Regions from separate parts of the Homo sapiens genome. Here region 1 is reported to be linked to region 2. The links are microRNA targets in miRTarBase. Many come from high-throughput screens and were not tested one by one. Region 2 holds a microRNA gene; the other region holds the end of a gene's coding sequence.

Evidence for each region. Region 2 holds the annotated microRNA hsa-miR-4466 (GGGUGCGGGCCGGCGGGG, at 1,437-1,454, shown strand). A microRNA usually pairs through its seed, bases 2 to 8, with sites in the 3' UTR of a target mRNA and lowers its output. Matches are read on the target gene's strand: a 7mer-m8 pairs with bases 2 to 8, a 7mer-A1 pairs with bases 2 to 7 and ends in A, and an 8mer does both.
Region 1: the mRNA of NMNAT2 is a reported target of hsa-miR-4466. The part of its 3' UTR that is shown has no 7-base or 8-base seed match.

Annotation. Positions count from the first base shown.
Region 1 is chr1:183,250,111-183,253,110 of GRCh38, reverse strand. NMNAT2 (nicotinamide nucleotide adenylyltransferase 2) reads left to right here. Exons shown (of 11, transcript NM_015039.4): 11 at 368-3,000. The coding sequence ends at 470. It also overlaps a transcript of LAMC2 not described here. Among named protein-coding and RNA genes, the nearest start is that of LAMC2, 65 kb to the right of the region's middle.
Region 2 is chr6:156,777,890-156,781,163 of GRCh38, reverse strand. It overlaps MIR4466 (microRNA 4466), which reads left to right and starts at 1,433; the gene lies at 1,433-1,486. ARID1B (AT-rich interaction domain 1B) reads right to left here. Exons shown (of 20, transcript NM_001374828.1): 1 at 1,693-3,274. It overlaps LOC115308161 (a long non-coding RNA gene), which reads left to right and starts at 2,646. Exons shown (of 2, transcript NR_163974.1): 1 at 2,646-2,918. RefSeq lists silencers at 1,303-1,472, 1,503-2,192, 2,263-2,312, 2,533-2,762, 3,013-3,082 and 1 more and an enhancer at 2,034-2,569.

The DNA.
Region 1 (3,000 bases), not on the chromosome of region 2:
ATTAGATGCCCACTGTGTGTCTGGCACTCTTCTAAGTGCTTTGCATAATGACTCATTTAATCCTTTGAATAACTAAATGAGAGGGGCCCAGATATTACCCTCATTTTACAGGAAAAAAACTGAAGAACAGAGGGGCTTAAATAACTTTCCCAAGGCCTCTCACCTAGGAAGTGGCAGAACCACGATGAATGATGTCACCAAGGTGGGGAAGGAGTTGTGGAGGCAAGAGGGCCTTTCCTAATACAGAACTATTTACTCAACCTGAGAAAAGGCTACAAATGGGGTGCTGGGGAGACAGGGGCATGCCAGTCCTCCTGACTTGCTTTGGGTGTGGATGTCCATCTGATTGTCATCTCTTCTTGTGCAGGCTGGCCCTGCAGCATGGGGACGGCCATGTTGTGGATTACCTGTCCCAGCCGGTCATCGACTACATCCTCAAAAGCCAGCTGTACATCAATGCCTCCGGCTAGCAGCCCCTCGTCCTCCGGCAACACAATGGCCCCTCCATCTTTGTCAGCCCCCTGTTTCTCTCCTGCCTCTCTGTTTCTCCATCTCCTCGTCTTGACTGTTTTCCCTACTTGCTGACTTAACCCCCCATAGTGTGGGGGACCTGCAGAGAACCATGGCATTCCCTATTCCACAGTCATCTTTGGACAGACTTTCCTCTAGTCTCCGGGTTGGGGGTGGGTGAGGGAATGGGGTGGGAGTCGGGGGAAGTGCAGTCCTTGGAGATGTACTGGTGTCCGTCTCCCAGCATGCTCTAGAGAGGCGGCTCTGGTGCCCATCCTCCCAGCACGCTCTGGGGAGGCGGCTCTGGTGCCCATCCTCCCAGCATGCTCTAGAGAGGCGGCTCTGGTGCCCCTCCTCCCAGCATGCTCTGGGGAGGCGGCTCTGGCTCTTGCCTTCCCAGCATGCCCTTTACTACAAAGGGCTATTTTTCTTTTCTTTCTTTTGTTTATTTATTTTTCTTTGTTCACTCCCTGTAGAACTTGGATGAAATCAGTGTCCATGGTTCTTTATGTTTGTAGTCTTGATGTGCTCCTGTGGTATTACTTCCCCTCTGATAGGACATTGTAGCCAGCCTCAGCACTCAGTGAGTTCATCAGGGCCACACCCAGTAGAGAAGGCCAAGCAACCTCCACTTCTTCAGCACCACACACACGCACACACACACACACGCACACATGCGTGTGCACCCGCGCACGCACATACACACACACATATAGCAGTAGCAGCAGCAGCAGCAGCAGCAGCAACCTTTGATCAGGAGTGAGATTTTCGGGTTCTGAAACCTGGGACACGAGTCTGTGAATAGTCGGTTTTCTCAGAATAATTTGAATCTGTTTTCTTAGTTTCAAATGACCATTTCCCTGATGCTCTGAGCTTATGATCACACAGAGCCAGTCCATCCTCATTTCCTGGTGGCATCTGTTCATTTACCTTTGTGGACTGTAGCTGATGGCACAGTGCGGGTTCCCTACCAGCCAGGGGTTTCCAAGGGACCTTTGGAGGCCATGCTTAGACACATTCCTGTACCTGAGAACAACCACATAGGCAGGACCAGATCCACATCGTGCAGTCGTGTCATAAAAAAACAAAACAAAACAAAAAAACACTAGGAGTCCACTCAACCCTGGAGGTCTTTGCTAATTGGAATTATGTATTGTCTGTTGGGCTGGGAAATGTCTCTTTCATATTGTAAGTCCAGGATGAACTAGGAGAAAGCAATTTGTTGCCCTGATGATAACTGATGATTTTCACCCTCTCTAGCTGAGGTAACTCAGACAGTGCATGAGGTCAGTTTCTTCTTGAGAAGCAGTGCCTTGGTCTTGTTTCTGTGGTTGGTTCTAGCCCCTGCAGAGCCTGGGAGCTGCAGGAACTGTCTGAGAAAATCTCCCTAATAGGGGAGTGGGTTCCCAGAAGGGAGATCTGGGAGGGGTCAGGAGCCACTAAGTTGCTTCACTCCTTTTTTCTCTAATTTTCTACCTTCCTCTCTGTTCCTGCAGACAGTTTTGCCAGCTTTGCTTCTGGTTACTAGGGTCTCATGCGTGTCCTGCTTGGAGAGCCATAAGGAAATTGCTGTCTTGTGCTTTGTGTCTCTCATCCAGTCTCTGGCTCTTGGGATTCTGGTCTTTGAGAAATAGTCCCTGAGTATTAGGATACTTTTATCAAAATCTAGTACCAGCTACGGCCAGAAAGGGCCAGGTGGGACCTGAAAGCAAAGACAATGTTCTTTACCACACGTTTCACATCTGCAACATCCTTCAATTGCGGGAAAAGGAACTTGATTTAACAGAAGAACATGGTAGAGCAGCATCCAGAAAGTCTGTTATTCCTCTTGGATTTTTTGAAATAATCTTCAGAGGAAGGAAGGAAAATCCTATTTTGGGGTATCAGTGTTTGACTAGGGATCATGAAATAATAAACTGAAAAAAACTTTAGAGTTCAGTTGATCCAACACTTTCCTTTAAAAGTTGAGGGAGCAGAGGCCCATGGGATTAAATGGCTGGTCCAGGTCAGCCAGCAGGTGTAGGGCCTGACAAGAACATATTGTTTCCCTGACCCCTAGGCCGTCACACCACACCCTCCATTTCCTCATGTTGCTGACCAGGTGCCCATATGATTTCTACACTTCCCAAGCCTTACCCTGGCATCTTTCTTTTAAATTATATCTGTCCCAGGTGCTCTCCACACATAGGATGGTAATGCCAGTCCCAGGGGAGGGTGTGATAGTAAGGAAGGCCACTGTTAGGTTTCCTTTAGAAATAAAGAGATCTCAGCAGCTTGGAAGAAATCCCAGAAGCGGACTCCATCAATCCAAGAAAGAGTTGCTTTGTGGAAGGTGAAGGAAGACCCACAGAGTGCTCAGGATGATGCTATTGCTGGAGAGCGAAAGATGGAACAGCCTTGTCCAGGCAGAACAGTCATAAGCCAGGAAATGAAACAAAGGAAAACAGGTGCCTGAATTTCCTGGGGAAACATGGCTTGTTTAAGGACTTG
Region 2 (3,274 bases):
TTTCCTCATTTCGTTTTTTAAATATGTCAATTCTAACCAAAACTCCTCATCCACAAATATCTTTGAACAGTCAGAACTGATAAATCACAAAAAAATGAAGCTTAAATCTTGTTTATCAGGTGAATTACACATCACCAAAATATATTGCTGCCTATCAAAATCTTAAAAAAATTTTAAGGTTTTATTAAGCTGCGTGTGCTGACAGAATTCAAATTTTTCCATAGTTGAATTTGTAAAGGGAAGACTTTTATAAAGGCTTTACAAATCCAAAAATTGGTAAAATTCGTGGTTTACTTATTTTTCAATGGCCTTATCCTCAGCCTCCAATTAAAGTCTATGATATATGTAATGTGCATATTCTAAGACTATCATCAAAGATCTGAATTTTGTAAATGCCCAATACTGGACACCAGCGAACTGTTTTTCTGTATTTGATCCTCTTATTAATAACTATGATTCATAATAGTTTCAGCTTTAAATACTGAACCTTACATTTGCTTGTAATAGAGCTCAGTTATTATTTGTGGCAAGAATTTTTGTGACTGTACTGCTCAGCACTTCTATTTACATCAGCAGTGCTAAATGCCCAATGGTGAGAGGGGAGCCAATCAGATGGCAGATTAGATGTCAACTCAGAGGCAGCTGTCTGGAGACTATTACAGCCAGTTTACCTCCACAATTCAAATTCCAAACCTTGCAAAGGAGATCAAGTCAGTCTTTAGGCTCAGCCTACTAGCAAGAAACAGCAAGAGTGCAGGACACTTCCTAACAGCGCTGTAGGACTCGGGTGACAGCAAAATAAAGAAAATCCAAATAAATACGATCCCAAAAGATCAATTTTCACTGGTCTGCTATCTTACTGGATTTGCTGAATAAAATGCATGCCTAATCCATGATCAAAATAAGTTCAATTGATCCGGAACGTGCTCCTTTCACATAGCCTGCCTGTTGAAGGTGACTCCCTGCAAGCAGCCCGTAAGCCCAATAATGGATTTCCCTGGCTATTCTAAGGAACGAATCGATGTATTTTACAATATTGCACCTCCATGTCGTTGTAAATTTTGTTATTATTCCTACCAGCAAACGTTCGAGCTCGAAGCCCGCACCGAGTGTCTCTGAATGGCTCTCCCTAAGTAGGAAAAACCCACTCGCTTGTCACAAAGCTAACCTATTTTCCCTGCCTGGACCTCGGAAGCCAAGAGGGAACGTGCTGTGGCTAAAGGTGTGAGAAAGTTCCTCATTCTTTCCCCCGTTAAAGCACATTGTGGGCGCTCCCAGAACCGATCGGGTGGCTCTTCGCCCCAGCCGTCCTGGCCGGGAGAGCCTATTTGTTACAAAAGCACCCGAACGGTCCCCGCCGCCCCAAACGGCGACCGCGCGGGTGGCGCCTCGGGATCTCGCTTCGCGTTCCCGGGCCTGGGGGAGGGGGGGGACGCGGGTGCGGGCCGGCGGGGTAGAAGCCACCCGGCCCGGCCCGGCCCGGCGAAGCCCTCCCAGGCCTGGACAGCGCGCCGGCCCCCGGGGCGCCCCGACCGCGGCGGGAGGCGGCCGCCCGTCAAGATGGCTTTGGGCGCCGCGCCCCCGCCGCCCCCGCGGGAAGACGGGGAAAAGTACGCGGCAAAGAAAGAAACTCAGGCTCGCGGCGCGGCGAGGCCGCCGGGCGGAAGCAGGCCCGGCTGGCGCGAGGGTTACCTGGGATCTGCCCATGGTCGGTCCGGGGGTGCCGGGGCTCATCGCCGGGTGACTCCTTTGTTGCGCGGCCGCCCAGGCCGGGCTGGCAGCGGCGTACTGGGCGCCCATGTCCTTGCCCAAGCCCATGCCCGCGGCCGCCTGCTGGCCGCCCGCCGCCGCCCCCGCCGCCGCCGCCTGGGACTGGGGCTGCGACGGCGGCGGCGGCGGCGCGCTGGGGCTGCTGTACTCGGGGTAGCTGCCGCCGTAGCTCCGCATCATGGGGCTGGGCGAGGTGAGCAGCTGATTGAGGGTCGGGGTGGCCCCCGACGGGTGCTGGTTCTGGCCGGCGAAGCGCTGGAAGCCCCCCGCCGCCGAGCCGGCGGCCGCCTTGCTGAGGCTCGCGGCCCCGCCGCCCCCGGGGCCCATCATCATGCCGCCGCCCTGCTGCCGGGGGGAGCTCAGCACCCCGTACCCCGCGGACGAGCCCCCATAGCCGCCGCCGCCGCCGCCTCCTGCTGCTGCCGCCGCCGCCGCGGCCGCCGCCGCCACAGCTCCCGCTCCTGCTCCTCCTGCTCCTGCTCCTCCTCCTCCTCCTCCTCCTCCGCTGCCTCCTCCTCCTCCGCCGCCGCCGCCGCCGCCGCCGCCCGCGCCGGGCCGGCTGTAGCCCGGATAATGGTTGCACTGGCTGTTGGGGTACCCTTCGTGGGAGTTCTGCAGGGGGTCCATGCTGCCGGGGGCCCCGGCGGCGGCGGCGGAGGCGGAGTGCATCATCCCCATCCCGGGGCTTTGTTGTCCGCCATGTTGATCAAAGCAAGGCCCAGCGCGGCCGCCGGGGCCGCCGCTCGCAGGGGCAGCGCTGCCATAGTAATTATTAAACTCCGGGACGGCCGCCGGGCCGCCGCCGCCCCCGGGCACGGCGACCGGCGGCTGCTGCGTGCCCAGGGCGCCCAAGCCCGGGTGCTCGTAGCGGCCGCCCGCCGGCTCCCCCATCTTGGGCGGCGCGTCGTCCTCGTCGCCCGGCTTGCTCAGCAGCGGCGGGCCCGGGGGGTCGGCCTGGCCGCCCGCAGCACTGTCCTTGGCGCCTCCATGTTGCGGCTGCTCCATGTCGGGGCCGGGCTGAGGCGCGCCGCCGCCCGCGCCGCCCAAGCTGTTGTTGTTGGAAATGGGATGTTGCTGTTGCTGCTGCTGCTGCTGCTGCTGTTGCTGCTGCTGCTGCTGCTGCTGGAACTGGTTTAGCTGCTGCTGTAGTGCGTGGTGGTGGTGGAGGTGGTGGGCATGGTGGTGGTGGTGGTGGGCATGGTGGTGGTGGTGGTGCTGCTGGTGGGGCGGCGCGGCGGGGGCTTCGCCAACGGTTTTCAGTTTGTGGTTGGGGAGCAGCCCCGTCTCCATGGCCGAGCCCGGGCCCGACGAGGAGGAAGAGGATGCCGCCGCTGCCGCCGCGGAGGAGGAGGAGGAGGAGGACAGCGCGGCGGCGCTTCCACCCTCCTTGAGAGCCGCCTCGGAGCCGCCGCTCTTGGCGCTGTGGGTGCCGGCGGCGGCCGCGGCGCCCGCGTTATGGGCCATGTTGAGTTCGTGACGGGGGAGCAGGGGGTGGTGGTGCACA